4 separate regions of the Homo sapiens genome follow, and regions 2, 3 and 4 are each reported to be linked to region 1. The links are microRNA targets in miRTarBase. Many come from high-throughput screens and were not tested one by one. Region 1 holds a microRNA gene; each other region holds the end of a gene's coding sequence. Distances are from middle to middle.
The links. Region 1 holds the annotated microRNA hsa-miR-328-3p (CUGGCCCUCUCUGCCCUUCCGU, at 4,356-4,377, opposite strand). A microRNA usually pairs through its seed, bases 2 to 8, with sites in the 3' UTR of a target mRNA and lowers its output. Matches are read on the target gene's strand: a 7mer-m8 pairs with bases 2 to 8, a 7mer-A1 pairs with bases 2 to 7 and ends in A, and an 8mer does both.

Region 2: miRTarBase lists SNAPIN as a target of hsa-miR-328-3p. The part of its 3' UTR that is shown has no 7-base or 8-base seed match.
Region 3: miRTarBase lists VWA5A as a target of hsa-miR-328-3p. Seed matches in the 3' UTR shown: 7mer-m8 at 6,600-6,606.
Region 4: miRTarBase lists DNAJA3 as a target of hsa-miR-328-3p. Seed matches in the 3' UTR shown: 7mer-m8 at 2,060-2,066.

The regions. Positions count from the first base shown.
Region 1 is chr16:67,197,972-67,206,060 of GRCh38, forward strand. It overlaps MIR328 (microRNA 328), which reads right to left and starts at 4,424; the gene lies at 4,350-4,424. It overlaps E2F4 (E2F transcription factor 4), which reads left to right. Exons shown (of 10, transcript NM_001950.4): 10 at 37-947. The coding sequence ends at 152. ELMO3 (engulfment and cell motility 3) reads left to right here and starts at 1,160. Exons shown (of 20, transcript NM_024712.5): 1 at 1,160-1,433; 2 at 1,582-1,622; 3 at 1,713-1,785; 4 at 1,980-2,030; 5 at 2,221-2,390; 6 at 2,480-2,579; 7 at 2,686-2,837; 8 at 2,919-2,997; 9 at 3,414-3,464; 10 at 3,549-3,671; 11 at 3,771-3,902; 12 at 4,006-4,107; 13 at 4,205-4,313; 14 at 4,426-4,562; 6 more. The coding sequence starts at 1,356. The coding sequence ends at 5,906. RefSeq lists a silencer at 496-555.
Region 2 is chr1:153,660,716-153,668,804 of GRCh38, forward strand. It overlaps SNAPIN (SNAP associated protein), which reads left to right. Exons shown (of 4, transcript NM_012437.6): 4 at 485-1,137. The coding sequence ends at 586. ILF2 (interleukin enhancer binding factor 2) reads right to left here. Exons shown (of 14, transcript NM_004515.4): 4 at 7,738-7,842; 5 at 7,285-7,362; 6 at 6,840-6,942; 7 at 4,948-5,013; 8 at 4,505-4,621; 9 at 3,681-3,759; 10 at 3,328-3,415; 11 at 2,500-2,561; 12 at 2,304-2,418; 13 at 1,990-2,080; 14 at 1,073-1,841. The coding sequence ends at 1,681. Among named protein-coding and RNA genes, the nearest start is that of SNAPIN, 6.1 kb to the left of the region's middle.
Region 3 is chr11:124,144,880-124,152,968 of GRCh38, reverse strand. It overlaps VWA5A (von Willebrand factor A domain containing 5A), which reads right to left. Exons shown (of 19, transcript NM_001130142.2): 18 at 7,606-7,732; 19 at 5,248-7,103. The coding sequence ends at 7,024. Among named protein-coding and RNA genes, the nearest start is that of VWA5A, 33 kb to the right of the region's middle.
Region 4 is chr16:4,453,533-4,461,354 of GRCh38, forward strand. It overlaps DNAJA3 (DnaJ heat shock protein family (Hsp40) member A3), which reads left to right. Exons shown (of 12, transcript NM_005147.6): 11 at 1,279-1,395; 12 at 2,014-3,243. The coding sequence ends at 1,382. Among named protein-coding and RNA genes, the nearest start is that of NMRAL1, 17 kb to the right of the region's middle. RefSeq lists an enhancer at 2,186-3,156 and a silencer at 6,003-6,203.

The DNA.
Region 1 (8,089 bases):
CCCTGGCCCAGGGCCTGAGACTAGTGCTCTCTGCAGTGTTTGCCCCTCTGCTTCGTCTTTCTCCACCCCCGGGAGACCACGATTATATCTACAACCTGGACGAGAGTGAAGGTGTCTGTGACCTCTTTGATGTGCCTGTTCTCAACCTCTGACTGACAGGGACATGCCCTGTGTGGCTGGGACCCAGACTGTCTGACCTGGGGGTTGCCTGGGGACCTCTCCCACCCGACCCCTACAGAGCTTGAGAGCCACAGACGCCTGGCTTCTCCGGCCTCCCCTCACCGCACAGTTCTGGCCACAGCTCCCGCTCCTGTGCTGGCACTTCTGTGCTCGCAGAGCAGGGGAACAGGACTCAGCCCCCATCACCGTGGAGCCAAAGTGTTTGCTTCTCCCTTTCTGCGGCCTTCGCCAGCCCAGGCTCGGCTGCCACCCAGTGGCACAGAACCGAGGAGCTGCCATTACCCCCCATAGGGGGCAGTGTCTTGTTCCTGCCAGCCTCAGTGTCTTGCTTCTGCCAGCTCCTTCCCCTAGGAGGGAAGGGTGGGGTGGAACTGGGCACATGCCAGCACCACTTCTAGCTTCCTTCGCTATCCCCCACCCCCTGACCCTCCAGCTCCTCCTGGCCCTCTCACGTGCCCACTTCTGCTGGGCCTTTAGCCCTAGAACCTGCAGGTGGTGGGGGCGGCTACCAAGAAGGAACAGAGGTCTCTGGGGAGGAGTCTGGGTGGTCCAGCCCTGATGATTGGCCCCACCTCCTGCTGCCCCATAACCCTCTCTTCATTTCGGCTTTTTCATTTACCCTCATTTAGAGCCATTTGCAGAGATTTAGAAAGATTTACAGTAACGAATGGATTCCTATATAAAGATTATTTTTATACTTTTTGCAGCAAAAGGAAATTGTAATATTTGTACAGTGTTCAAGTGAATAAAAACCATGCCTAAGGCTAGCTCTGATGTGGTTCTTTGGGGACCCTCCTTGGGACTGTGCTGGACTGGCAGTGTGATTGGGTGGGTCACCTTGCTGGAACTAGGGGTGGGGCGGCCTCCGGCAGCCTGCCCTCCCCGCCCCCACCTGCCGCACCTTGGTGTGGGGCGGGGCCGCCTCGGCGGGGCGGGGCAGGCGGAGCCGTCCTACCTTCCTACCCCCAGACTCCAACCCGGAACTAACCTCGGCTCCCTTGGGAAGGCCGCGTTGCATGGCCAGGAGCAGCAGTCTGGGCCGCGAGTGCGGGACACCGAGGTCAGGTCTCGGAAAGGGAGGACCTCCTCGTCCCCAGGGGCCCCAGGCCAGGTGCACCCTTGGCCGCAGGTGCACGGTCTCCGGAAAGTGCAGGCGCCCACGTCCCAGCTGGACCATGGCGCCTCCGCGGAACGTGGTGAAGATTGCCATCAAGATGCGTGACGCCATCCCGCAGCTCATCCAGCTGGACCAGGTCACCCGGCTGGTCCCGCCTCCATCTGCCCCACTGCCCCACCTCCCGGTAGCCCCCTGGCCCTCGGGGCAGCCCGCCCCACCCCTCCCCCCAGGCTCCTCCCCATCCCTCCCTGCCCAGGCCGCGAGAATGACCACTCCACTTGCAGGCGAAGCCCCTGGCCGCTGTGCTGAAGGAGGTGTGCGACGCGTGAGTGCTGCCGGGCCAGGGCCTGCGGAGGGCGGGAGGGCAGGAGGGGCGGCGCCCCCTGCCGGCCTCGCTGAGCCTCGTGCCCCTCAGGTGGAGCCTGACGCACTCTGAGCGTTACGCCCTGCAGTTTGCGGATGGGCACCGGAGATACATCACCGAGAATGTGAGTCCCCTCTCCCCAGCCCCAAGCTCGGCCTTCCGACCCCTCTAACCCACCTGGCCCCGATAACTCTGGCTCTTCATCCCACTACCGGAGCGCGATCTGTTATTCACCCCCAGCCGCCCTCACCGACACCCCAGTTGATCAGTCCTCGGAGCCCTCCCTGACCTCGCTGCCTTTTCTGCTGTCTTCTCCAGAACCGCGCGGAGATCAAGAATGGCAGCATCCTGTGCCTCAGCACGGCCCCAGTAATGCCCCTCCCGTCCCGCCTTCCCCATCCCTGCCCCTTTGCTCCAGGTCCAGAGGCCCCCCGCCCCGGAGGCCCCCGCCCCAGCCCTGCCTTGCGCCACCTAGTTGACGCCCGGGGCCGCACACTTCCAGGTCCCACCCTTACCATGCCCAGCCTCTTCACCTCTGCTCCTGCTCCGTTCCTGCCAGGACCTTGAGGCTGAGCAGCTCTTGGGTGGGCTGCAGAGTAACAGTCCTGAAGGGCGCCGGGAAGCCCTGAGGCGCCTTGTTCCGCTGGCCTCGGACATGATCTTTGCCAGGGAGGTCATCAGCCGTAATGGGCTCCAGATACTAGGCACCATCATTGAAGATGGGGACGAGTGAGCACAGGGATGTGTGGGCTGGGGGAGATGGTGGGTCTTTCTGGTCCTGGGGTGGTCCTGCTCAGCCCCAGATGTCCCCCCTCCAGCCTAGGAGAGGTGCTGGCCCTCAGCCTGAGGGCCTTCTCAGAGCTCATGGAGCACGGCGTGGTGTCCTGGGAGACTCTGAGCATCCCCTTTGTGAGGAAGGTGGGTGGGCTTTCCTAGGGCAGCGGGTGGGGGCAGTGGAGCAGTGGGGCAGTGGTAGACCCGGTCTTCCATGGGGGTGAGGTGGTGACACCCCCGCCCCTTACAGGTGGTGTGCTACGTGAACATGAACCTCATGGATGCCTCCGTGCCTCCCCTGGCCCTTGGGCTGCTGGAGAGTGTGACCTTGAGCAGCCCAGCCCTGGGCCAGCTGGTCAAGAGCGAGGTGCCCCTGGATAGGCTGCTGGTGCACCTACAGGTGTAAGCCTCTGGGGCTGGGGTCCAGATGCAGGGAGCAGGGCTGGAGCCTGAATGTTCCACTGAGCCCTCTTCTTGCCATAGGATGAACCAGCAGCTGCAAACCAAGGCCATGGCCCTGCTGACAGCCTTGCTGCAGGGGGCCAGCCCTGTGGAACGCAAGGTGAGTGTCGATCGGTGGCTAGATGGGGGCAGCACCCGGTGGGCGCTGCCCCACCCTGAAGCAAAATCCTCTAAGCCCCCCTTTTTTTTTTTTTTGAGATGGAGTCTTGCTCTGTCGCCCAGGCTGGAGTGCAGTGGTGCGATCTTGGCTCACTGCAAGCTCTGCCTCCCGGGTTCACACCATTCTCCTGCCTCAGCCTCCCGAGTAGCTGGGACTACAGGCTCCCGCCACCACGCCCAGCTGATTTTTTTTTTTTTTTTTTTTTTTTTAAGTAGAGACGGGGTTTCACTGTGTTAGCCAGGTTGGCCTCCATCTCCTGACCTCGTGATCCGCCCGCCTTGGCCTCCCAAAGTGCTGGGATTACAGGCGTGAGCCACCGCGCCCAGCCTAAGCCCCCTTTCTTTCTACCCCCTCAGCACATGCTTGACTATCTTTGGCAGAGGAACCTTCGCCAGTTCATCTATAAGGTAGGAAGTGGTGGGCCAGGGGGACCTCTCTGCCCCTCCCTCCCCGTGAGCCCTCGCTTACACCAGGGACTGGCTGTCCTGCAGAACATCATCCACAGTGCAGCACCAATGGGCGACGAGATGGCTCATCACCTGTACGTACTGCAGGCTCTCATGCTGGGGCTGCTGGAGCCGCGCATGCGGACGCCCCTGGACCCCTACAGCCAGGTGTGTGTCTTTGGTGAGGACAAGGCAGGGGGTGGCTTAGAGCTTGGCCTTGAATCTATAATCTTGATCCCCTCCCCCGCCACCCAACACTGACCCCAGGAGCAGCGGGAGCAGCTGCAGGTCCTACGCCAGGCTGCCTTCGAGGTGGAGGGGGAGTCCTCGGGTGCCGGGCTAAGTGCTGACCGTCGCCGTTCCCTCTGTGCCCGAGAGTTCCGCAAACTGGGCTTTTCTGTGAGTATCACCCCTACCCAACTCCCCACCCCTGCCTCAGCCCAGGGCTGTTGTTCCAGGCGGCCGTGGCCCTTCTTGAACTGCCTGTGCCCACTTCCCCCAGAACAGCAACCCAGCACAGGACCTGGAGCGCGTGCCCCCCGGTCTGCTGGCCCTGGACAACATGTTGTACTTCTCCAGAAACGCGCCCAGCGCGTACAGCCGGGTCGGTGACAGGGTAGGGTGGGGGGGTGGCAGCATCCCCCAGGCAGGGTCCCCATGGGCTTAGCTGTGACTCCTTGCCCCATTCTCTGCGCCCCCAGTTTGTGTTGGAGAACAGCAGCCGCGAGGACAAGCACGAGTGCCCCTTTGCCCGGGGCAGCATCCAGCTGACGGTGCTGCTGTGTGAGCTGCTCCGTGTTGGGGAGCCCTGTGAGTGGCCTGGACTGGGCACAGCATGGCCAAGAGCAGGGGACGGAAGGGCAGAGAGGGCCAGGGGCTGTATGCACTTTCTCCCTGAGCCCCTCCTGCCCCCCCACTCCAGGCTCTGAGACAGCCCAGGACTTCTCACCCATGTTCTTCGGCCAAGACCAGAGCTTCCACGAGCTCTTCTGTGTGGGCATCCAGCTGTTGAATAAGACCTGGAAGGAGATGCGGGCTACACAGGAGGACTTCGACAAGGTGGGTGGGGTGGGAGCTGGGAGGCCTGGGCCAGGGCAGGGGGCTGATCTGGGTACAGAGCTTAGGCCCTGAGCTGAGCTTGGGCGGCCCCAGGTCATGCAGGTGGTGCGGGAGCAGCTGGCCCGCACTCTGGCCCTGAAGCCCACTTCCCTGGAGCTCTTCCGAACCAAGGTGAATGCGCTCACTTATGGGGAGGTGCTGCGGCTGCGGCAGACTGAACGGCTGCACCAGGAGGGCACACTGGCTCCCCCTATACTGTGAGTCTGGGGGGATGGATCCTCAGTCCTAGCCCTACCTTCCTTGGTGCCCCCTGGGCTACTCCCCAGGTCAGATGTGCTCAGTGACACCCCTCTATCAGGGAGCTGCGGGAGAAGCTGAAGCCAGAGCTCATGGGCCTGATCCGCCAGCAGCGCTTGCTCCGCCTCTGTGAGGGGACGCTCTTCCGCAAGATCAGCAGCCGGCGGCGCCAGGGTCTCTGAATGGGCATGGGCAGGGGGCAGAGGGCAGGCAGAGGGCAGGCAGAGGGCGGCTGGCTTGGTGTCAGGACCTCTCAGCACTCTGGCCCTCTTCCCTTTCTCCACGCAGATAAGCTGTGGTTCTGCTGCCTGTCCCCCAACCACAAGCTGCTGCAGTACGGAGACATGGAGGAGGGCGCCAGCCCGCCTACCCTGGAGAGTCTGCCCGAGCAACGTAAGGCGGGCAGGGGCGGGGGCCAGATACCTGCTCTCCCCAGACCGCCCTGGGCCCCGGGGCTGCCAGGGCTGCAGTGCTCAGCCCAGCCTTCTTCCTGCAGTCCCTGTGGCCGACATGAGGGCACTCCTGACAGGCAAGGACTGCCCCCATGTCCGGGAGAAGGGCTCCGGGAAGCAGAACAAGGTGAGTACAGCGGGCCAGGGGCTCCTTCCCACCCGCCCCCGCCTACCCTGTCCCCTGCTCAGTGTCCCCGCTCCCTTGCTTCCCCAGGACCTCTATGAGTTGGCCTTCTCAATCAGCTATGACCGTGGGGAGGAGGAAGCGTACCTCAACTTCATTGCCCCCTCCAAGCGGGAGGTGAGTGTCCGCCAGGCTGAGGTCGGCAGGTGGGCAGGGGAGGCAGATGGGCAGACCCTCACGGCTCTGTGCCACCCCCAGTTCTACCTGTGGACAGATGGGCTCAGTGCCTTGCTGGGCAGTCCCATGGGCAGCGAGCAGACACGGCTGGACCTGGAGCAGCTGCTGACCATGGAGACCAAGCTGCGTCTGCTGGAGCTGGAGAACGTGCCCATCCCCGAGCGGCCACCCCCTGTGCCCCCACCCCCCACCAACTTCAACTTCTGCTATGACTGCAGCATCGCTGAACCTTGACAGTGTGGCTGGCCATGGGCCACAGCTGCGGCCACTGCAGCAGCCATGAAGGGCAGTGGGTAGAGGAGTGCAGGCACCCTGACCAGCAGAGATTGCTGCAGAAATAAAGTCTGCTTGGCTCTTGGGATATGTTGAGCCAGCTCTGTACCTTGCGGGCTGAGCCTGTGACAGTGACAGTCTTCCCCTTCTGCCTTCAAACTTAGCTGGTGGATAAGATGGGGCATCAGGCCAGGCCACAAACTTTGACAGCTACGGTTGAGGGGCTGGTGTTCTGAAGGGGGTGGGGAGAGGCTGGGACTGCAGCCTTTCTCCAAGGTGAGTCCTCAGCCTCCCTCCATGCTGGGCCTGCAGGGAGGGTTGGCCTGTGGTCTGGGGGCACCTGCCAAGGGAGAGGCTGAGCTGCCGGCCTGCTGCAGGAGAACTGGCAGGGTAGGAGGCACTGCCCCAAATGGATGCCTTCCTGGACAGCGTTAACAGGGGCGTAGTCTGGGAGCCATCTCCAGAAGGCTCCTGACAATCTGACCTCAGTCCTCAAGCTTGCATGGCCCTGCCTGGTGTCCTTTGTAGGACTTGGAGTTCTCTGGTGAGAGGCATGAAGGGAGAGAGGCAGAAGGGCAGGGTCAGGATCCCCAGGCTGGTAGGAGGATGTGGGCTGATTCCAACAAGAGCCACTTCTGTGCAGGAAGACCCGGTTTCTGATTAAAACCTAACTCAGGGCCGGGCTTGGCTCACGCCTGTAATCCCAGCACTGTGGGAGGCTGAGGCAGTCCGATCACCTGAGGTCAGGAGTTCAAGACCAGCCTGGGCAATATGGTGAAACCCCGTCTCTACTAAAAATATAACAATTAGCTGGGTGTGGTCGAGCACACCTGTAATCCCAGCTATTCGGGAGGCTGAGGCAGGAGAATCGCTTGAACCCGGGAGGCGGAGGTTGCACCGAGCTGAGATTGCACCACTGCACTCCAGCCTGAGCGACAGAATGAGACTCCATCTCAAAAAACAAATTAAAAATCTAACTCAGAACCATGGGTAGGGTGGGGGCCATAGACAGGCCAGAGCCCCTGGGGGCAGAAGCATCGAGGAGTATTGGGCCCAGCTGGAGGTTTGGTCACAGGGGCAGAGGCTGTGATCACAGACCCCAAGCCCGTGAGGAAAGAAGAGCCTATAAGTCTGTGGAGCTCACAGGATAGGCTGAAGCCACTGCCCCTCAGACTTCCCCCTGCCATTCACCTCTTCTCTCACCAGTGCTACCTCCAATATCTTTTTTTTCTTTTTCTTTTTCTTCTTTTTTTTTTTTGAGATGGAGTTTCACTCTTATTGCCCAGGCTGGAGTGCAATGGTGTGATCTTGGCTCACTGCAACCTCTGCCTCCCAGGTTCAAGCAATTCTCCTGCCTTAGCCTCCCAAGTAGCTGGGATTACAGGCATGCGCCACCATGCCTGGCTAAATTTTTTGTATTTAGTAGAGACAGGGTTTCACCATGTTAGTCAGGCTGGTCTCTAACTCCTGACCTCAAGTGATCCACCCACCTCGGCCTCCCAAAGTGCTGGGATTACAGGCATGAGCCACCGCACCTGTCTCCAATACTTTTTTGTTTGTTTTGTTTTTTGTTTGTTTTTTTGAGATGAAGTTTTGCTCTTGTTGCTCAGGCTGGAGTGCAATGGCACCATCTTGGCTCACCATACCCTCTGCCTCCCGGGTTCAAGTGATTCTCCTGCCTTAGCCTCCTGAGTAGCTGGGATTACAGGCATGCGCCACCACGCCCGGCTAATTTTGTATTTTTTGTAGAGAAGGGGTTTCTCCATGTTAGTCAGGCTGGTCTCGAACTCCCAACCTCAGGTGATCTGCCCACCTCGGCCTCCCAAAATGCTGCGATTACAGGCGTGAGCCACCGTGCCTGGCCCCAATACTGTTTTTAACTGTTAACCATCAACCTGGCTGACCTTGAGAACTGATGAAACTCAGTTTCATCCCTCAGTGCTCAGCCCTCAGTGCTGGAGGGCACTTACTCCCCCTCCCCCAGCTAAGCTGCAGATCTTTGGGCATCCAGGGCCCACTATGCCCATGCCTAAGGACTTCCCACCACAAATGGAGCAGTCGGCCATTGAGTTATAGGTGGAAATGGGGGGCAGGGACCCCTGATGCTGTCGGCCTCCCTGTAACTGTCAATTATTCCTTCTTAA
Region 2 (8,089 bases), not on the chromosome of region 1:
CTCAAGTGATCTTCCTGCCACTTCCTCCTAAATGGTGCTGGGATAGGCATGAGCACCATGCCTGGCCTACATTTTTTTTTTTTTTTGAGATGGAGTTCTCCCTCTGTCACCCAGGCTAGAGTGCAGTGGCACGATCTCATTTCATTGCAACCTCCACCTCCCGGTTTCAAGCGATTCTCCTGCCTCAGATTACAAGCACCCGCCACCATGCCCAGCTAATTTTTTTGTATTTTTTAGTAGAGACGGGTTTTACCATGTTGGTCAGGCTGGTCTTGAACTCCTGACCTCAGGTAATCCACCCGCCTCAGCCTCCCAAAGTGCTGGGATTACAAGTGTGAGCCACCATGCCCGGCCTACATTCTTATATATACTTTTGAAGACTGACTTTGAGGTAGATCACGCCCGGTATTTTTCAGCACCTAGTTCACTTACACTCTCAAGCCTTTCACAGTGGTTAAGATTCCAAACCTTCCTTGTCTTGTAGGAACGACTGAGACGGCTAAACCACAGTGTTGCCAAGGAAACAGCCCGCAGGAGAGCAATGCTGGATTCGGGAATTTACCCCCCTGGCTCCCCAGGCAAATAACAGATGAGCCTATGGACTCAGTAGCACAAGTACTGTTCCCCAGCTGCCTTGTTTCAACAGACATGCAAAGATCCTAGGAGACAGTCCCCATAGACCTTCAGACATTAAAAAGGGAGCCGTACAGTTTGTTTGAAGCACTTCGTCTTACCCATTTATGTAGGGGCCCCAGGAAACCTACACACAGCCAGAATGAGGTTCCCAAAGGACTTACATTAATTATGGCTCTTGCTTCCTTTCACAAATGAGCTGAGGCCTCTACTTTTTTTTTTAAGCTGCATACGTGAGGCTTACCTTCTTCAGGACTAGTTAACCAGAGGGGCTTCCTTTGTATGTTACATGCCTGGTTACATGGGCCTGGACAGCATGTCCTCTACCTGTGACTTCTCATTTTCCTGTTTACACTGGGGATTTGGAGGGGGCAGGCAAAGTCAAAGTGAATGACCTCTGTCCACCCACTTTTTTATTGCACTGGCTTGAATACAGTAGCAGTGTTGATAGAATCATTTTATTCAATAAATACTTAAAATGATATTCTAGTTTACTCTGGTATATGGAAAGGTTCCAGGAGTTTGTCCTTTAATTCAAAGACAGCTTCAAATTGTGATCTGAGTATTTATAATTAAATGACTCAATTATCATTTTCAACAAAAGAGTACACAAAGCCAAAAGCAAAAAAGGTTGCCACATGCAAAAAAACAAACAAACAAAAAACACCAACCAGAAAGACCAAGAGCCCTACTAGGAAGTACTTTAATAGTTTTTCTTAGAAAAAAAAATTTCCAGACACTTAACATTTCACAACATTTCAACAGCAAAGTATTAGTTGAGAGAGGGGTTTTCAGGAGTTGGAGATTATAGAATATTAGGAAGAAATGTTGGTATCCTCCATTATAGATGGATGGCATAGGTCACAAATGGGAGACTGGCAGCTAAGCCAATATCAAAACCCAGTGGAATGACACTTCTATGGAGTTTACTTTTCTTCCTGCTATCTTCCCTATCCCACGGAAATGTCTGTCACCATGTAAAGCCCAGTAGCAGGCAGCTTAGGCTCCAGTCTTCCCCCTTGGGTAGGAAAAGGAGTGAAGGGAATGTCACTCCTGAGTTTCCATGCTTTCTTCTTCCTCTCCTTGAGGTGGTTCTTCTGTATTCTCCTCTTCTTCCTCTCCTTCCTTCTTCTCTGGTGGCTTCTCATAAGCCTTTTCTGAAGGTGTTACTATCACTCCATCCCAGGTAGATATTTCAGAAGCAAGATCTAGGAAAGAGAAAAAGGTGATTTAGACGAGTAGCCCAGCATAAAAGTCATTACTTACACTGTGGAAATATTAAAGACATTTAAGTAGTGTACAGCTTCTCTGTACCAGATTACAATACAAAACCCCTGACCCACAGTGGTCACTCACAGCTGGCATCACCCTCCTGGCCAAGGATCTTCCTAAAGCCACCATGTGAGAGGATTCGGACGAGAGTCTGAGCTGTATAGCAGACCATGTCCTGAAGGAAAGCAAAGTGAGAGTAAGCAAGGAAAATCAAAGGACCTTATTTGAGTAATACCCTTCTGAAAACAGAGATTAAGACAGCTTTTTAAATCTCAGGACCAAAGTCTTTCAGAATCCCCAAATTCCTGACCCGTAAAGACCATATTCCGCTTTGCCTGCTGAGCAGCAGTATTCAAAAGAGTGGGGCAAAACAACTCAGTTCATATCTGTCCCAATACCTGCTGTTCTAGGGTCATGACTGTGTGTACTCTAAAGTTGCCACTCTCACAGGGGTCAGTGATACCCACTGAACCTGGCAGGAACAGTCCTGCAGCCAGAATCTGCAAGCAGCGCCTAGAACACAGGGAGGTATGAGGTATTAAAGGAATGCACAAAATAGTTTACAACCAACCCTAAACCCAAAGCATGCTGTACCTGTATGCAACGTTTAGGGCCAAAGGCTGTCTGGTGGGGTTGTTCATCACAGCATAATGGCCCTGAAAAATAATAAATCCAGTAGGTGTGCCATCAAAATGGCACTTCTGATAACTAGAACTTTATTTTTTAGAGACAGGGCCTCACTTTGTCATCCAGGCTGGAGTGCAGTGGCGCAATCATAGTTCACTGTAACCGCGAACTCCTGGGCTCAAGCAACCCTCCTGACTCAGCCTCCTGAGAAGCTAGGACTATAAGTTCAAGCCACTACAACTGGCTAATTTTTTTTTTTTTCTCTTGTAGAGACAGAGTCTCGCTATTTTGCCCAGGCTGGTCTCAAACTCCTGGCTTCAAGTGATCCTCTGGCCTCAGCCTCCCAAAGTGCTGGGATTACAGGCATCAAACTAAAACCTTAAATGATCACGAGGAAAACTGGTCATTAAGGTCTAAGTCTAGCCAAAATTTTCATGTTCAGAAGCAATTCTGAAATGGCTGCTCACTCATTTCTCTCTACTACCATGATTAAATGGTAGCAGTCATGAGAAGAAAACGGGACACTATAACTCAGTAACTACTCATTTCATTGAATATACAAAAAAAAAAAAAAACTTTGAATTTTTTCTTTTTTTTTAAACAAATGTCTCTGAGTCATGTAAATGTTGAATTTTTATTGGATTACTTGTCTACCAATAAAATTTCTTTTAAGCTTCACCAAATTTCAGACTCTGGTGAATTTCAGAGTTACTACTACTACTACTACTACTACTACTACTACTACTACTAGTAAATAAGGATGATGAGGAACTCCAATTGCCCATCTTTACTTACTAGTAGGTCAAGGATCCAGGGTGTGAGGGGCTCAAAGCCAGGAAAACGAATCCTCAAGTCCTTCAGTAGTCTGATGAGAACTTTAACTCTGAAAGTAATAGTGACCCAAACATTAAAATCAATACGATCATGTATTTCCATGCCTAAGGTAGAATTGAAGCTGACTATGCTATTTCCAGAACTATACATTCTCTGCTTTCTCTAAATCTTAATTTGCTTCCTTAAGGTAAAAATAAAAATCCAGACACGAGGTCACAGGCAAAATAGTTCTGTCAGAGGAAGTATGGGGGTATCCTGCTATTCACTGCAGTTAAAAAGTTTATCTTAATCCAAATGGTTAGAGAGGGACTCACGTGGACTGAGAAGCATTTTCCTCGAACCAGCGGGCATGTCGGATGGCTGCTAAGGCACTCTGCAATACTTTGATATCCACTAAAAAGACAAGCATGATATGCCAGGATGAAACATTTTCATTAAACAAGCTACTCATTACCACTGCTACAGTCTTAAAAACTTGGAAGGAGGGCAGGATAGACGGAGTCTCGCTCTGTTGTCCAGGCTGGATTGCGTACAGTGGCGTGATCTCAGCTCACTGCAACCTCCGCCTCCCGGGTTCGAGCAATTCTCCTGCCTCAGCCTCCTGAGTAGCTGGGATTACAGGTAACCGCCATCATGCCCCACTAATTTTTTATTTTAGTAGAGACGGGGTTTCATCATGTTGGCCAGGATGGTCTCCAACTCCTGACCTCAGGTGATCTGCCTGCCTCAGCCTCCCAAAGTGCTGGGATTACAGGCGTGAGCCACCGCACCCGACCAACTCTGCAATTCTTTAAGCCACCCTGTGTTTCTCATATCAGCAAATCACTTGTCTAAAAATCACTAGAAACATGCAAGATCTGTTTTCTTCAAAAGCCTATCCCCCTCCATAAATATTTTCTCAGTCCTTTTTAAGTCCTCCAAATGCTTTCTTGGTCACCCCATCTGAAAATTCCACTAGCAAGCTGATAAACTATTTCCAAATTACAGAGGGAGAGAGCAAAGTTCAGAATAAACCTAAGTTCTTCAATTCCCAGGAAGCTGCATGTGGAATAGCAACAAGCTAAGTAAACTAAACAGCAACAATACCATGTTTTGAATATCCCCTAAATTTTCCAGCAATGGAAAAAAAAGAACTAACAATGGAGTTCTGGATCCAGTTTTCGAAGATTGGGTGGCACTGTTGTAATGAGAATCTTCACTGTAGCATCAGAAGAACTGATTTCAAAGCCAGTTTCGTTGGTCAGCATGGTTAAAACTGAAAAAACAGAATAAACAAAAACTATAACTCACATTTCCATTAGATGATCAAAGTTAAATCCAGGGTGGGGGGGAACAGGTGGATTTTTTAAAACAGCACAAAGTCCAGAATGAGAATTTAGAATACAGAGCTTTAGAAGGGAGATCAAACAGATCTCCCTTGAACACCTTGAACACCTGAAGCCCCTGCCAAAAACTCCCACAACATAAAACTCTGCATTTACTCTTCCATCTGGTCTGATCTGATTTTGTTGAAAGTGTACTTACAATTACAAGACCTGGTTCCTATGGCTACTAAATACAGAATCAGCAACAAATGCAAACCTTCAGAAGGATCCTGTGCTCTTAGGCTTTCCACGACTTTGTTCCCCAGGGCAGCAACAGCTTCCACTAATTGACAGAAAATGACATAATGTTATAATAATTTATTTGCCTAGACTTTCTATGTATCTCTAAGCTACTTTGCACTCTCATTTCTGTCCCATATCCAAGGCTGAAGCAAGGGTAAGTAATAGAATATATACTTTTATAAGAGAAAGCCAAGGCCTGGGCAGAAAAATTGGAAGACTCAGGGAACAGGACCCCTCCTGTACTCATATCCTCTTTCTACAGCAGGGTTTTTCAGGTCAGTGGCAGTTAATAACATTTTGGGCTAGACAAATCTTTGGGGTGATGGGGATGTAGGATGTTTAACAGCATCCACGGCCTCTATCCTTTTTCTTTTTTTGAGAAAGGGTCTCACTCTTGTCACCCAGGCTGCAGTGCAGTGGCACAATCACAGCTCACTGCAGCCTCAGCCTCCCGGGCTCAAGCAATCCTCTCACCTCAGGCTGCTGCTTTTTTTTTCTTTTTTTCTTATTTTTGAGACAGGGCCTCACTCTGTCACCCAAGCTGAAGTGCACTGGCACGATCTCTGCTAACTCCAACCTCTGCCTCCCAGGTTCAAGCAACTCTCCTGCCTCAGCCTCCCAAGTAGTGGGGATTACAGACGCCCACCACCACGCCTGGCTAATTTTTATATTTTTGGTAGAGACTGGGTTTTGCCACGTTGGCCAGGCTGGTCTTGAACTCCAGGCCTTGGCCTCCCTAAGTGTTGGGATTACAGGCGTGAGCCACTGCACCCGGCCCCACCTCAGGCTTCTGAGTAGCTGGGACCAAAGCATGCACCACCATGCCCAGCTAATTTTTTTCTTTTTGTAGGTACAGGATCTCTCTATGTTATACAGGCTGGTCAAACTCCTGGGGTCAAGTGATCCTCTTGCCTCAGCCTCCCAAAGTGCTGGGAATACAGCCACCACACCTGGCTTCTACCCTTTTTTGATGCCAGTAGCACCCCCTTGTTTTAACAATCAAAAGTACCGCCAGATACTGCCAGATATCCCCTGGGTGGCAAAATTACCTCCAGTTGAGAAACATGGCCGTACAGTAACCTGCTATACATTCTTTCAGACACACACACTCCAGCGTTTGTCCCTTATCACTCATTAAAAAACATTTGTCAGGCAGGGTGCAGTGGCTCACGCCTGTAATCCCAACACTTTGGGAGGCCAAGGCGGGCGGATCACCTGAGGTCAGGAGTTTGAGACCAGACTAGCTAACATGGTGAAACCCCGTCTCTACTAAAAATAGAAAAATTAGCCTGGCATGGTGGCACTTGCCTGTAATCCCAGCTACTTGGGAGGCCAAGGCAGGAAAACAGCTAGAACCCAGGAGGTGGAGGTTGCAGTGAACCGAGATCACGCCATTACACTCCAGCCAGGGCAACAGAGTGAGATCCGTCTCAAAAACAAAAACTAGAAACATTTGTCTTACAAACATCCTTTCTCACAAGAAATTTGAGCTTTCAAGATCCGTAAGGGCTGGGCACAGTGGCTCACGCCTGTAATCCCAGCACTTTGGGAGGCTGAGGTGGGCAGATTGCTTGAGCTCAGGAGTTTGAGACCAGCCCGAGCAACACGGTGAAACCCTGTATCTACAAAAAATACAAAAATTAGCTGGGTGTGGTAGCACACATCTGTAGTCCCAGCTACTCGGGAGGCTAAGGCGGGAAGATCACTTGCTGTAGTGGAGGTCAAGGCTGCAGTGAGCTACAATGGTACCACTGCACTCCAGCCTGGCCAACGGAGGGAGAATTTGTCTCAAAACAAAAAAAGATACCTAAACCCCTAATCCAAGTGCTATGTTCTGTTCCCATGACCAGAAACAGGCACACTCACACGTTGGCAGAATCTTGAGTATCACCACCAGGTCAGCCACATTGTGTCCTGTAGTCATTGTCCCCTTTTTATAGGATCCCACCTGTCGAACTTCTTCAATTTGCTGTTGGAAAAAGGATTTCGGGGAAAAACAATTTAGAAGAAAAAAAGGTGCCTAGGTCCTCCCAGAACTGTTACAACACAGCTACCTGTTACCCAAATTAAGAAGTAGCAGAGGTGAAATCACCCCCAAAACCACCACATGAAAGCCTGATACATCACAGCTAGCATAACAATGATACAAGTCTTGTCCCCAAGATCAGTACTACAAAGAAATTCCACTGTACTTTCTCATTTTAGGCTTGGCTTTGGATAATAGACAACTGAAAATTAAAAGTCAAGAGCCAAGGCAATTTCCACACTACCAAAGCTGCCCTTTCCTAAAACTAAATCATCAAAAACTCACCACTTCAAATGTCCCTGGAGCCACAATCAGATTATCAATCACATTGTTTATTTTTGTCACCAGAGAAAGGATAGATGCCTGAAAAACAGTATGAAACAATACTTGAAAATGAAAAATTATAAGCAATTTCTCAGAATTTGAATATTTTCTCCTAATCCCTTCCATACAAGCTGACTCAATACTGACATAGGGCTTTAAAAACACTTCATTCTGGCCTTGAATATATGGGAAGAGAACAACTCTTTGTCCCCAGTAAAAATAAGAATGCATATGTAATTTGTTTATATATCCACCTGGCTATCTCCACCCACAATGAGAAATAAGGAGAACAATTAAACCCTTTGTGGATTTCAGGCTCTGTTAACACCATTCTTAACCTTACCAACAGTTACTCTTTACCAATACTTTTAACTGCTTTAGAGACATTTCTGGAAGACAGCCAAAAGAACATACCTGTTCAGCAGAATTGGGAGCCAGGTCCTGATTCCTCTTCAGCAAGGCCTCACTGAAGGAAGTTTCATCAGGTGCTGGCTTGACCCGGGGAAAGGCCATTTCACACTAAACCAGAAGTAAACAACTACATTCTATTTGCCGAAGATAATATACAGGAGAGATTGTTTTTTCTATTACTACGACAGAAAAAGGTTAAAAACAGAAAATTCTACACTTGTTTTTACTGCTTAATTTGTTCAATTAGCTGGGCGTGGTGGCTCACACCTGTAATCCCAGCTACTTGGGAGGCTGAGGTGATAGCTGGGCGTGGTGGCTCACACCTGTAATCCCAGCTACTTGGGAGGCTGAGGTG
Region 3 (8,089 bases), not on the chromosome of region 1:
TGAGGTGTGACCCACCTAGTGGGGGAATATAGAACTGAAAATATTCTGCATTTTTATTGGGGAGAGATGGAAATGAAAGCAATATCAGGGACTTGAATCCTTGGAAACGCTCTTGAGTGATTTGAAATCCTCAGTCATCACTAATTCCTAAACAAATTTTCATGCTTCTATCTGATCCCACTCCCACTTTCAAAGCCTGTAACCTGTTGGGATATAAGTCAGGTAACCATAACAGGCTAGAACACTGGACCAGTCCTTGGAATCAGATGGAGCAGTTTGATGTCTAAAATGAATCACTAGTTTCCATCTCTCAATGGAAATGTGAGCCTGAAAGTATTTGGTGTCTCAATCAATATTAAGTCCATTTGGAACCAACTATCAGTTCTTGGAGCTTCAGAAACTATTGAACCCAAATTCAGAATCTCTGCCTTCAAACGTCACACGTCCTTTGATCATGCATTCTAATAGATAGTTATAAGAGAATATTTCTATCTATTCCTCAGATAAATCTGATCTGCTTGAACTACAGCTTCATTTTATAATATCTTCTGCATTTAATGTGTGTCTGTTTAGCCATGGACATTAAGAAATCACAACAGCAGAAGTGCTAATTTTTAATCTATCATAATTGATAAAGTTGTTTTGAATATGTGCAACACTATGTATCTTGGACCAGGGTGGTAGTGTCATTCATATATTTATTTACACCTGAACATTATTATAAGATGATTATTGTATAAATATTTGGTACAAAATGGAAAATATATAGCTGTGTATTAATTGTATCTGTAACATTCATTTTAATGGTTTTATCTATTAGTGATTACAGATTCTCCCAAAATCAGATAATTCAGCTAATTTATTAATAAAGTATTATAATCTTTGTTCTTAATATTCAAAACAAGTAGCTATTTCACATTTTTTATTTTTAAAAGCAAAAAATAATAATACTTTCAATCATAGAGTCTCTGTATGCAGTTGAAGTTGTTACTAACTTAAAATAGATGGTTATAAATACAAGCTATTTTTATGAAAGCCTTAAGATAACCACAAAGAAAAGTCTCAAAACATAAAGAGAAAATAATCAAAGCAAATTGCTACCAAAAAAAAATCAAATACAGGAAGAAAGCAAGAGAAGAACAAGCCAACTACAAAACAAACAGAAATCAATTAAAATGGCAGTGATAAGTCCTCACTTATCAATAGTTATTTTAAATGTAAATGAAATAAATTCTCCAATCAAAAGACAGAGTGATCATTTTTATTTGTCTATTGTACCTCAGTAAAGCAGAAAACATGCTTGTAAGCTTAAGCGTCTTTACCCTAAAAATCCACTGAATGTTAAACTGTTAATTACAGTACCTCAAAAAAGAATTAAAGTGAGTGAATGGATTTCACAGTACATAAACTACACTTCACTAAGCTGTTTTTTTTTTAAAGTGAAATAAAGACTAAAAAAGGCATGGATTCTAAAGTCTATATAGAGCTTGATCGCTGACAAAGTATATATATATACTTTTAAATATATATATATTTAAAAGTAAGCCTGACTATATTTCTATACAATTCCACTTTCAGCTTTATGACTATGCTTATTATTATTTAAGAAGAATTGCCTAACATTATACCCTCATCCCTACCTGAGACTCTGTCTATTTATTGACCCTCACTGCATTACTGAATTCTTCCCCACACCTCACCTCATTTTCATATCTCACCATTAAGGATGTCTGTTTGTTACATCACTTAGTAATAAAAACTGGTTTATGTGCAAAACAAACAAACCCAAACTTTTAACTTTGGATAGACCACAATAGAAAAAAGAATGTTTTCTACCTCTGAAATTCCAAAAAGTACAGTTCTGTAAATGAAGGGTCAGTGAAGTGTGGAGATTTGGTAGATCAGACTACATGGAGGCCAGTTTCAACTATAACATGCAAAGAGTTTGGAAACCATCACTCTCACCATTACCACAAGAAAAAGCTGAACAAACATGATATGGTTTGGATTTGTGTCCCCACCCAAATCTCAGGTCGAATTGTAATCCCAGTGTGGGAGGTAGGCCTGGTGGGAGGTGATTGGATGATGGGGGTGGATTTCCCCATTTGGTGCTGTTCTTGCGACAGAGTTCTCACGAGTCCTGGTTGTTTAAAAGTGGGTAGCACCTCCTTCCTCTTTCTCGTCTTCCTGCTTTGGCCACATGAAGACACCAGCTGCTTTGCCTTCCATCATGATTCTAAGTTTCCCGAGGCCTCCCCAAAAGCTGCTATGCTTCTGGTATAGCCTGCCAAACTGTGAACCAATTAAACCTTTTATTTATAAATTACCCAGTCTCAGGTTTTCTTTTTATAGCAATGCAAGAATGGAATAATACAAAACTCATTTATCTGTACCCTTTAGAAACTGAGAACACAGGTAAATAGTCATTCTGAAATCCTGAGAGACAGGTGACTTCAGAGTCACTGCTGACATTTACAAACCTGGAAGAGAATCTTTGGGATGGAATATAGACAAATAGAAACTTCCTAAACTTAAATGTAAAGATAAAAACAAAAACCAAATAAAAAACAAACACACATTCACATGGCTATATAAAGAATCTCTGGAATGGAAGATAGACCAATAGAAACTTCCTAAACTTAAATGTAAAGATATAAACAAAAACAAAATAAAAAACAAACACATAGGAAAAACAGAGCAGAACATTCAAAACTTACAGGATAATTTCAAACAGTGTAACATGCAATTGAAATACAAGAAAAAACTAAGCAGAAAAATAGTTGAAGTTATAGCAAAAATTTTCCAAAATTAATGAAAAGCACAAAATTACAGATTCAGAATGTTCAAATAACACCAAAAGGATAAATACAAAAGGCCCTACATTTACAAATATAATATTCAAACTGCAGAAAACCAAAGACAAAGAGAAAATCCCAAAAGTCTGCGGGGCAGGAGGGGGAGAACACTTTACCTATAGAGGAAAAAGAATAACAGCATATTTCTTGCCAAAAACTATTCATGCTAAAAGAGATTGAAGTAAAATATTTAAAGTGTTAAAAGACAAGACGACTGGACGCAGTGGCTCATGCCTGTAATCCTAGCACTTTGGGAGGCCAAGGTAGGTGGATCACAAGGTCAGGAGATCGAGATCATTCTGGCTAACACAGTGAAACCCCGTCTCTACTAAAAATAAAAAAAATTAGCCAGGTGTGGTGGCATGTGCCTGTAGTCCCAGCTACTCGGGAGGCTGAGGCAGGAGAATCACTTGAACCCAGGAGGTGGAAGTTGCAGTGAGCCGAGATCACGCCATTGCACTCCAGCCTGGGTGACAGAGCGAGAATCTGTCTCAAAAAAAAATAGACACACACACACACACATACACACACACACACGGAGCTATAAGTTCAGCACAATTATGCTTCAAAAGTGAAGAAGAAATAAGGACTTTCCCAGACAAAAAGAAAAACTAAGGGAATCCATTGCCCACAGATCTGTTCTACAAGAAGTTTTAAGACAAATTCTTCCGGAAGAAGAAAAAGGATACAGGTAAGAAACTCAGATCTATGCAAAGAAAGGAAATGTCAGGAAGAAATAAATAAAAGTGAAATATGTATTTTCATTTTCTTATTAATCGATCTGAAAGATAACTGTTTAAAGTTATGATAGTAACAATTAGGTAGTTAAAATATAGACATAAGTGACATGAATGGCAGCAATGTCATAGTGGATGGGAAGGAATTAGGAATACTCTGTTATAAGGTAACTGCACTACATGTAAAGTGATATAGTGTAACTTGAAGGTGGGCTTAAATTAGTGATAAATGCATATTGCAAACCCCAGAGCTAAAACTAAAAAAATTCTTAAGAAATATGATGGATATATTGAGTGGAGATAAAATGAAATCACACAAAATGCCTGGTTAAAGTGAGAAAAGGCAAAAATGAAAAAATAAAAGAAAAAAATGCAATAAATAGTAAACAGTTGACAAACATGGTAGATATTAACCTAATTTTATCAATAATTACTCTAAATATAGATGATATGGGTCGATAATTTAAAAGTAGTGATTGCCAGAGTGGATTAAAAGCAAACAAAAACAAATAAATAAGACCCAACCACATGTTGTTTCCAAAAATCCACTTTAAATAAAAAGACTCATATAGGCTAAAAGTGAAGGGATGGAGAAAGATACACCCTGCCAAAACCAATCAGCAGAAAGCTGCAGTAGTTACGTAAATTTCAGACAAAGCCAACTTCAGAACAACAACAACAAAAATCAGGAATAAAGTTGAGCATTAAATAATGATAAAAGAGTCAATTTTCCAAGGATGTATGATAATTTTAAATGTATATGCACTTAGGAGAATATCAAAATATATGAGGTAAAAACTGATAAAATACACAGTTCACTGCATGGGTTTTTTTTTTTGGTTTTCTCCTGGTCAATCAGATACTCCAGAAAGCAGATGGACTGTTTTTAAGGAAGGAATTGCTGTGAGTTGGGAGAGGAAGAGCAGATGCTCAGTGACCCTGAGTGGGACTGTGTTAGAGTTGGGGAAGACGGAGGATGGATTTCATTAGTAAGTCTGTGTAGAACAGAGAACCCTCCAGGGGAGCTCCTGGCCTGTTTGAGTGGAAGAATCTTGAGGGAATGGTATCTGCCACTTTTCCTGTGGCCAAGTCTGCTGCTGTGGGGGAAACAAGCACTAGATAAAGGCAACTAATGGGAGATGAGAACAGCTTCTCTCCTGGGCTCCTTGCCTGGACCACCAGTTTCTGAAATTACAGATGGTTCTTTATACTTTCCCAAAACATAAAGCATCAGACTTGAAATGGGGTTTCAACAAATGTGCCAAAATGCCATTTGCTGATTATGAAGACTGACACTTGTTTAGATTCGAGGAATTTACAGTTGGCACAACATTTCACTGTGCAGGAGCCCAAATGGAAAAATAAAACCACGCCACTTTAAAACTGTAGTTGTCTTATTTTAAAGAGGTCAAAAGACAGGTTGATAATTTTTTTTTTGTTTCTTTTAGTTCGTTTAGTTTTTGTTTTAGAACGCCCCGCACTAAGTCCACAAGCCCCAGTCTGGAAGTTGAAGGGTGAGAAAAAAGGAGGTAAACGATAAGCGCTCCGCATAATAAATGTAAAGTCACAGCATTGTGTGCACAGAGGTTAACTATACAAGTTTCACGGTCCTTAAGAAACTATTTTCTGAAATTACATAGGTAGGGCCTATCTAGATGGCAGGCTTGGATATAAGCCTATTTCATGAAAATATTAAGCCTTTACTTTTCAAACTTCAATGTGCATGCATGATACCTGGGAGCCTTGTTAAATAAAGTAGTTCCTGGTATCGATTAAAATTCTGCATTTCTAAAAAGCTGCATTTCTAACAACCCTGTTCCGCAGATCACATTCAGCATAAACAAACTTGGAAGAAAGACTGAGAGATTAGAGTCCACTATGCAAGTCACACAAGTCTTCCTAATACCAGGTAACTCAACAACTTAAAGAAACTCAGGCCTAGTCCACCCACTTTCTGAGTGAAAAGTCACCGATGTTCCTCTAGGAATTCTGAGTGGAACTCGAAAGTGTTAATAAAGTTCTAGTTTAATCCCTTAGTTTTACAGATGAGGATATTAAGTGCCTGAGGGTGAAATCATTTGCCCATCATCACATAACTATTTAAGGGTATGGTCAGGATTCTACAGTGGTATTCTTATTAGTATCCTTTACTTGCTTCATATAAAAGAAGTCAGCCTACAACAGAAGATAGAGGGTCAGGATACCATGGGAACAGTGGAGGCATCAGAAAAGCTGGAACAGAAAACAAGGGACAATAAAACCAATGTAAGTTCAATAAATGAATCTATGGAGGAGTAGACCTCTTGCTAAGCTTTTTTTCCCTACTAAGTTTTATTTCACTAACTTCAGGTCAAATTTCCACAACTGTGTTCCGGTCAATTTACTATCCTAGTTTGGCTTCCCAAAGTGGCAGTACCAAAATATTGTGGGGTAGGGAGACGAGACCACTTTAAGAACCACTGCATTTACTCATCAAAGGGTAGAAATAGTCATTTTAATATTGATACAAGTTATTTTAAGGGACAGCATATCAAATAGGGTCATTTCCACCAGGATAGGGTATATGAGACACAAGGGTCAGGAACGATTACGGGGAGCTCCTTTCTTCCTAATGCGGTAAGTGCTCCAGGTTCAGGTCCCAGGCAAAGCTCCCATTAAGCCCACCCTTCCCTTTACTGCACTAGATCAGGGCCTGACTTAGAGGACACATAGGTTCAGGGTAGGACTAAGGATTGCATTATAGACTTCTTAAGGTGTTTCATGATTAAAGAGGAACATCTCTCTCCAACAGTTATAGTTCAACCCAAGTCTTTCAGGCAGTGGAAGAAAAGACATGTAGGTTGTACAGGCTAGCAAAGCCCAAGAAGAATGAATCAGGAAGGTCCCCAACAGTGTCACCTCTCACAGTGGACCCCTGCAGTCTCTGTCTTTGTGATCTTGACATTACATTGATCCAGATGTTGGCTTTCAACTTCCCTCTAACTCCTCCTACGCAAGCTTACCAGTATGGCCCTGATAAGTATATAAGATAGAAAGTGAACAGACAAAGATAATGCAGAAAATTCTCTAATTCAAGCATTCTCTAACATAAATGCTGCAATCTTTAGTCTGTAGTTCATGTCACCTGTTTTTCATGTTGTTTCCCTGGAAACCCTGGGAGGAACATTACTGCCTATGAATGTTTTGAACTCCCTCAAGAAAGGGAATAGGTTCTGGGACCACTGTCACTTTTCTGAGGGCATATGTTGGGAAAAGAAAGATCATATCCAAAGTGAACCTGGAGCAGAGAAGCGAAGTGGAGTAAGCATCCTTTACTTTTATGGCAAAAAATAAAGAGTTATAATACACAAGAACACATCATCACAGCAAAAGTGATACTAGAGGAAATGACAGTAGCAAATTAAAGGCACTTCTTTTTCTGGATGGTATCTTCAAAAGGCAAAGATAGCAGGATCCACAGATGACTTCAGGAAAGTAATAGCAGCTTTCACAACCGAAGGCATGGTGGAGCCTGTGGTGAGGAAAAACAAGAAGCAGGGATGAAGGATTGCAATTAGAGGCTCCTCCAAACCTCCCAGATCATCTACCCTGAGTTGTGCTTTTATCTGTCCTCAATATCCCTGCTTTTTCTTTTCTTGCTACCCAGATTCTCCTTGAATCTTCTCTGGCCCCAGATACACTCAGCTGCAGTGAGATAACAAACAGCCAGGAGAACACGCACCAAGTCTAGTCTTCTACTCAGCTTGGTACTGAGACAGTAAGGAGAATCAATGCCACTTGTCCTTCTCACAGTTCACACTCCCCATTTGTGTCCCTCTCCCTCCCTACTCACCCACCTACCTTGTCCCCAATTTAATATTTCACCCTTGTCCTCCCAAGAAAAGAACTAGCAGAAAGATTAGTAAAGATCTGAAGCAGGATGGTGGAGGCAGGTGACAATGGGACTCTCTTGTGGTCACCTTCCGCCAGGCCAGGGAAGGGGAAGGAGACAGGCCTTAGGATTGTGCTCCTACCTGCATGGGCACGCATCCAGGCCACGGCCTTCCTTTCCAGAAGCTCCCATTCACACTTCAAGTCCTTACCATTGCTGTGCAGCCAGATCACGGCCAGGATGGTGGCCCAGCCTGAGGAATCCACAAGCTGCACAGTAGATAGAGAGCTCCAGTTGGCACAGGAAGTCCCTCAAAAGGATGCAAAAAGCTTCACTCCCTCCTCACTTAGCATCCTTCTAAATGTCACTAGATGGAGTTACCTGGTCTCTCTTTACCTCCAGATACTACTTGCAAGGCATAATGCCAGGCCTTAAACCTCAGGGCAGCAATCCATTGAGTCTCGAAATAGAAAATCCTAAGTTTTAAATCCAGTGTAACCACCAGGACGGTTCTGGAAACCCCTAAGACAAGGCCAGCTCTAGTAAGAGAAACACAGGCAAAACTGCTTTATAGTTTATAAAGAACCTTCATAAGTTTTTTTTAATTGTAACCCTTATACCCCCCC
Region 4 (7,822 bases), 63 Mb from region 1:
TGGGTTCAACCAATTCTGCCTCAGCCTCCCGAGTAGCTGGGACTACAGGTGCATGCCGCCCCTGGCTAATTTTTTGTATTTTAGTAGAGATGGGTTTCACCATGTTCGAGGCCGGTCTCGAACTCCTGAGCTCAGGCAATCCGCCTGCCTTGGCCTCCCAAAGTGCGGGGATTACAGGCGTGAGCCACTGTGCCCGGCCTTTTCTTTTTTGAGACTGGGTCTCACTCTGTTTTATGTAGCCTCCCTCACCCCTTCCCGGGGACCTGTGGCCCCAAACTTTGGACCTTTCACTAGCGAAGGCACCTTCTTACTTAGACTGAGGCCTTTACTCTTTTATGCACTGTGCGTGGCCTAGGTCTCTGAGCACATTAAAAATGAGCTCTACAATTAACATGCCAAGTTCAGGTCTATATTCTAACTCACAACAAAAGTGTGCACTCCTTGTCTAGTAGTTGGCAAATCTGTAACACGTTTGTGTGAGAAAGTACCTCTAGATGGTGTCAGCCTGGGCCCTAAAGAAATTGCAGCACAGCTTCCCTAGGTTGAGAGCATTTAGGTTAGGTGCCCCAAATGGGGACAACTTGCTCAGGGAGATAGACTGCTGATGTGAGGGATGAGATGGAGTGCCTGTGACAAAGGATTGTGCGTGGCCGTGACTCCCACATGGGCTGTTCTGCAGGGTCTTTGCGCACACAGCAGCATGGAATCTGGCCAGTTGGTCTAGAGTAGGGTTTTTCTTGGCAGTCATTATTTACCTTCTTATAGCCAACAGCATGGTGGTTGAGTCTCAGCTTTGGAGTCAGACTGCATGGGCTCGCACTCAGTCCTCCCTCCCGCTTGTTGGCTCTGTGGCCTTGGGTAAACCCTGTAACCTCTCTGTGCCTCCTTTTTTTGTTTTTTCATCTGTGAAATTTGCCTGTAAGGAAGTGTATGGCCTGGCCTGGGAGGTGCCTGGCACTTGACTGTGTTTTTGTCACTGTTGCTCAGATAGAGACAGCTGTCATAGTCCGTCTCTATTTCTTGTTTCCCTGCTGTGGGTCCTTGATTGAAAGAGCAGTTGGGAGACCCTCAGGCTCTGAGTGGCCTGTTCACCTCAGTCGTCTGCAAGGTGAGGCATCCTGTGCCATCTTAGGAGTGGCCCCCACTCTTCTTGAGGTGGCACTTGGCCGCTTCTTGAACGTGGGCCCCTGGGTGGCCAGGCGGGGGTAGGTGGGCCCTGGGATGTGACTGTGGAAGTGCAGGCCCATGACGCCAGTTCTTTCTGCTGTTTGTGCCCAGGTGGCAGCACCATGGATAGCTCCGCAGGAAGCAAGGCTAGGCGTGAGGCTGGGGAGGACGAGGAGGGATTCCTTTCCAAACTTAAGAAAATGTTTACCTCATGATATCCCAGCCGAGGTAGGAAAACCCTGGAGGTTTTTTTTCCCTTTGTTTTCCTCTGTGAACTAATCCTGGTTTTCTCCCACTTTAACCAATATTGTGCCCCCACCCCCAGGAGTTGGAACAGGTGCCAGTCCAAGGTGTGGTAAACCTAGCTCCACTAGGAGCTGGCCTCTCAGCCTAGGGAATAGATGACGTGGCAATCAGCCTGTAGTGCAGGACTGGCTGGGCTGCCGCGGCCAGCCTCTGGCTGTGTCTTCTTCCTGGGGAGGTGGCGATGCTGGGGCTGTTGTACAGCCCCCCTGCAGTGGTGGGTCCGGCTTGCCCATGGTCACAGAGGGCGAGTCAGGCAGAGCCAGGCCTAGAACTCAGATCTCCTCACGTCCTGCCTGCTTGGAAGCTGCCCTCCTGCGTGGACAGCGCAGGGCTGTGCAAGCCTGGGGGCTGCTCCAGGGGTAGCGCTTGCTCGCCGTGTCATCTTGGGACCCACTTTGGTTTATTATGCTCATCTCAGCAAGTGGGGTTCTCGCCCCTCTCTTGGCACAGCTGCTTTCCAGGGATTAACAGACGCTCCCCACAGGGGTGTGTTCCCTTGAAATGTTGAGTATAAGGTAACAGCCTATCTCTTTGGCTCAGGAAAAAGATCCACTGGAAACTAGGCCGGGAAGCAGCAGCCCCTCCAAGGGCCAGGGCACCTGGGAGACGGGAGGATTCCAGAACAGCAGCACTGAGCTCCCACCCGCAGAGCCTCTGGACGGCCTTGGCAACAGCAAAATCATGGGACAACACCTCTCTCCACGGAAAGGTCACAGTGGACAGCCCGGGCAGTAGGATGCAGCCCCAGAGGCTGGTGGCAGTTTCCTGTCCATTGGTAGGTGACGGCCCCTGGCTCAGGCAGAGGGAGATGGTTAGACTCTTGCAGGGCTAAAACTCTAATTTGGAATTGAATATTGTGGATATCTTAGTTAAAGGCCATGCTTACAGCTTAGAAATGAAGCCTTAAGCTGCATCAAGTTACGAAGTGATTAATTTCCTTCTCAGCAAACCTCCGGGAGGTTCCAGAATGAGTTCTTCCTGACAGGTTGTCTTCACTGGGAGCGTGGGGCCCCCAGGCCCCACCAGCACCGTCCTCCCCTAATGAGGGGCCCTGCCGAGGCATCAGCTGCTCTGCTCAGTTAGTTTTTATTCCCGGGGTACCAAGCAGCTGCACAGTCGGTGCCTGGGAGGCACGTAGAGGCCCAGAGAGTCCCTGGGGGTTCTGCTCTGACCGTGTGGGTGGTGATCCTTGTCAGGATGTACAGTCCTTGCTCCCACCCCATCCGGGATGGCCGCCTGTCCCTGACTATTGAGTCCTGTTGTTGTAAGCCAGGCATGGAGGGCTCCTGCCCTTCTGCTGAGCCACAGCCCATTGCAGCACTGTGCTGGCCAGACTTCAGCTGCCTTGGGAACTGAAGCCCTGCCACTGTTGCTAGTCAGGGGCTTGGTTCTCCCACTTACACTGTTGACATCTATTTTCTGAAGTGTGTTTAAATTATTCAGTGCTAATCATTGTTTTTTCCTTTGTAAATGTTGATTCAGAAAAGGAAAGCACAGGCTAAGCAGTTGAAGGTTCCCCACCATTCAGTGAGAGCAGAACCCCCATTCCCCAGCCTCTGCTGGTAGCATGTCGCAGTTTCCATGTGTTTCAGGATCTTCGGGCTGTCGTTAGACAGGTTAATGAAGAACACTTCTCAACAGTTTCCTTTTTGTTTTCCTTTATAATTCACTAAAATAAAGCATCTATTAGTGTCTGATTTAGGAATGTAAAATGATTCTGTATTAATGTAAATAAGATTATCTATTGCAAAAAGATATTTCAAACCTAAATTGTGGTCATTTCTTCTTTGAAAGAATTCAGACAGCCTCTGCAGGTGGCTTATGGGGGTTACAGGAGACTTGGCTGGCCTCATCCTGTGCTCACAGCCACCCAGAGCACATAGAGGCAGATGGGTCTGGGGTGCCGACAGTGCTGACCCTCACTTGGATTCCAGAGCAGGGTGCTTGCCATGACACAACAGTCCCCTGTGAGTGAATGTTCTAGAATCTGGATGTGACTTTTTTCTTGGGAGCCCATGCTGTGAGAGCTGGCCAATGTCCCTGGGTCCCTGCATTTCAGTCTCCCTCACTGGATTGTTTCCCTTCATTCTTTCCAGTCTTTGCATCTTTTACATTCAATTTTATTTTATTTTTTTTTTAAATGGAGTCTCGCTGTGTCGCCCATACTGGAGTGAAGTGATACCATCTCTGCTCACTGCAACCTCTGCCTCCTGGGTTCAAGCGATTCTCCTGTCTCAGGCTTCTGAGTAGCTGGGACTACAGGTGCATGCCACCACGCTTGGCTAATTTTTGTATTTTTAGTAGAGATGGGGGGTTTCACCATGTTGGCCAGGCTGGTCTTGAACTTCTGACCTCAGGTGATCCGCCCACCTCGGCCTCCCAAAGTGCTGGGATTACAGGTGTGAGCCACCATGCCTGACCAAAATTTTTATGTATTATAGTTTGGCTACTCTGGGTTCCCAGCCACGCTCTATGCCTGGCGTGGCTAGAGGGGCCCTGATACACAGCTCAGTCCACTCTGGCACTCTGGGCTGAGCAGGGTGAGATGAGAGTCTGTTTGCTGGGTCAGGTGGAGAAGAGACTCGGGAAAGAGCTGACGGACAGGAGAGGCTCAGCAGTGACATTCTGCTCATCTCAGATACTTCCCAGTATTTTCATCAATGAAATACTGATTGCCTGCCTACTGTGGACACTCAGTATGGACCAGGCCCTATTCTAGTTCCTGGGGATACAGCAGTGGGGAGCTAGACCGTGTCTCTTGTGAAAGCTTGGGCTTATTCCTGGAACAGTCACCCTGAGTCTCATTCATGTCCTATTGCTTCAAAGCAGAAGTCTAGAGAAAGACTTTGGAAGAGAAAGGTGGATTTTCTTGCTAAACAGAAACCATTGTTGTGTTGAAGCATCCTTCCCTCAAGGGATTAGAGGTGGCTGTGCATGACCAGGCGAGGTGGCTCACACCTATAATCCCAGCACTTTGGGAGGCTGAGGCGGGTGGATCACCTGAGGTTAGGAGTTCAAGACCAGCCTGGCCAACATGGTGAAACCCCGTCTCTATAAAAATACAAAAAAATTAGCCAGGCGTGGTGGCACATGCATGTTATCCAAGCTTCTCAGGAGGCTGAGACAGGAGAATCACTTGAACTCAGGAGGTGGAGGTTGCAGTGATTGGAGATCATGCCATTGCACTCCGGCCTGGGCGACAGTGCGAGACTTCATCTCAAAAAAAAAAAGGTGGCCGTGCAACAGCTGTAGAATTCAGTGCTCTTTCTGGGCCTGGGTTTGGTTTATTTCCACTTGTGCTCCTGATGTATTTGTTACCAGACTTCTTTATAGCTTCTGAGTAGTAGTATGTATTTAAAAATATAAGAAAAGGGCCAGGCATGGTGGCTCACGCCTGTAATCTGAACACTTTAGGAGGCCAAGGAGGGAGGAATGTGTGAGCCCAGGAGCGAGAGAGTGAGACCCCCATCTCTACAAAAAAATTCTAAAAAATTAGCTGGGAGTGGTGGCTTGGCACCTGTAGTCCCAGCTACTTAGAAATCTTGAGGTGGCAGGATTGCTTGAGCTGAGGAGTTCAAGGCTCCAGTGAGCTGTGATCATGCAACTCCACTCCAGTCTAGGTGACAGAGCCAGACCATGTCTCAAGAAAATAAAGTATTTCTAGGCCTGTGAGCCTGTGGGAGGTACATGTTTGGCACTTGCTTAAACATTAGGAGGGTGGGCCGGGCGTGGTGGCTCACACCTGTAATCCCAGCACTTTGGGAGGCCAAGGTGGGCGGATCATGAGGTCACGAGTTCAAGACCAGCCTAGCCAACATGGTGAAACCCTGTCTCTACTAAAAATACAAAAATTAGCCAGACTTGGTGGTGGGCGCCTGTAATCCGAGCTACTCGGCAGGCTGAGGCAGGAGATCCGCTTGAACCCTGGAGGTGGAGGTTGCAGTGAGCCAGGATTGCGCCACTGGATTCCAGCCTGGGTGACAGGGTGAGACTCCATCTCAAAAAAAACATTAGGAGGGTGGACAAGGCCAGCTCTCAGGCATTGGTCCTCAGCCCCATTCCCACCTCAGGCCTGGGACTGGGTTGTTTCCAACCTGAGCCCCCTCCTCACTCATAGTCCTTTGGGTTCTGGTGGCCTGGCCTTTGTTTCCTTCCCTGTCAACCAAACAGTGTGCAAGAATTCTCTCCAGGCCCACAGGCCTCCAGCTGCCCCTGCCCCTCTGTGTTTGTAGCACTGCAGAGCCGGCTCTGATGTGGAGGACGGCAGCTGCACGGCTCCTGGAAGAGGCTTGTTTCACACTCTTGCTTGTTAATAAATACTGTGCAGGTCTTATCTTTTAACTAGAAGTTCTGCTTATTTCTCATGACTCTTCAAGGGTCACAAATGGGCCAGGGGGGAACATAAAAGGCGAAGTGGGTCCATAGTTATATGGCCAAGGGCATGATCCACAGACCTTAGCTTACTGGTCACCTCCCCCGATGCTGCTCCTGTCCCCATTTATTTATCCTTCCTGTTTTGTTTTTTGCAGCCCTTATGTCAATTTGTTTTTTGGGTTTTGTTTTGTTTTTGAGACAGGCTTTCACTCTGTTGCCCTGGCTGGCTTGTGGTGGTGCAATCACAGCTCACCACAGCCTTGACCTCCTGGGCTCAAGTGATCCTCCTACCACAGCTTCCTGAGTAGCTGGGAGTACAGGCACATGCCACCACGCCTGCCACCATTTCTTCTGTTTTTTTGTTTTTGAGGCAGAGTCTCCCTCTGTCGCCCAGGCTGGAGTGCAGTGGTACAATCTCGGCTCACCACAACCTCCACCTCCTGGGTTCAGCTGATTCTCCTGCCTCAGCCTCCTGAGTAGCTGCCGGCACACGCCACCACGCCCAGCTAATTTTTGTATTTTTTGGTAGAGACAGGGTTTTGCCATGTTGACCAAGTTGGTTTCGAACTCCCAACCTCAACTGATCCACCTGCCTTGGCCTCCCAAAGTGCTGGGATTACAGGCATGAGCCACCACGCCTGGCCCTAGTTTCTTTTGTATTTCTTTTTTTTAGGTAGAGATGGGGTCTTGCTATGTTGCCCAGGCTGGTCTCGAACTCCTGAACTCAAGCCATCCTCCACCTCAGCGTCCCAAAGTGCCGGAATTACAGGCGTAGATACATAACTATTTATTGTGTGTTTCTATCAGGCTCTCCCACTAAATATAAGCTCCTCAAGGCAGGCAGCATAACTTTTTTTGCTACATTGTATTTAGGGCCCAGCATACTGGTAAATTGTCAAAGAAATGCTTCAGTCAATGGATAGAATGAATTTTTGTGCCTGGGGGTGCCAGAGCCAGGGTGGGGAAGTAAAAAAATAAAAACTGTGATGGTAGTCACACAAACCTAAATGTGTTGAATTGAAATTCACAGAACTGCTGGGCTCAGTGGCTCATACCTGTACGATAATCCCAGCTACTCAGGAGGTTGAGGTGGAAGGATCACTTAAGCCTGGGAGGTGAAGGCTGCAGTGAGCTATGACTGTGCCACTGCACTCCAGCCTGGGCAACAGAGCGAGACCTTGACTCTTTAAAAAAAAAAAAAAAAAAAAAAAAAATTGGCCAGGCGCGGTGGCTTATGCCTGTAATCCCAACACTTTGGAAGGCCGAGGCGGGCGGATCACGAGGTCAAGAGATCGAGACCATCCTGGACAATATGGTGAAACCCCGTCTCTACTAAAAATACAAAAATTAGCTGGACGTGATGGTGCATGCTTGTAATCCCAGCTACTCGGGAGGCTGAGGCAGGAGAATCACTTGAACCCAGGAGGTGGAGGCTGCAGTGAGCTGGGATCGTGCCACTGCACCCCAGCCTGGGTGACAGAGGGAGACTCCGTCTCAAAAAAAAAAAAAAAAAAAAAAATCGGAGCTGCCATGGACCACAAACTCTCAGGCAAATAACTGGTCTCTCGGCCTCTGACCCTCTTCTCTGTGACCCACCCCAGCAAGCAAGGTGGGTTGTTTCTCCTTCAGTTTTGCTTCCCAGCAGTGTCCAATTACTGTGCGTTGTGGACCACAGCTCTGCCACATCCGATTTTCCTTTTTCCAACCTGTTTGAAGTTCACCTGTGTCCAGGATGGTACCCCAAGGCCGGCTCCTTCCAGGACAAGGATGAGGAGAGAAAGGGAGAAGCCCATATCTCCCCCGCCTCCCTGCAGAGCCTGTCTCCAGTTCACATGTGCAGATGGCCTCACTAGCTCTGGAGATGAAAGGGGTGTGTCAGAAGCTCGGCTCCTGGGGCTCCTCTGTGTCCTGTGCTATGTCCCCGTCTGTGAATGAATTTCAAATGTGGGAACAGAGGCTGCTGGTCAGAGCTGTT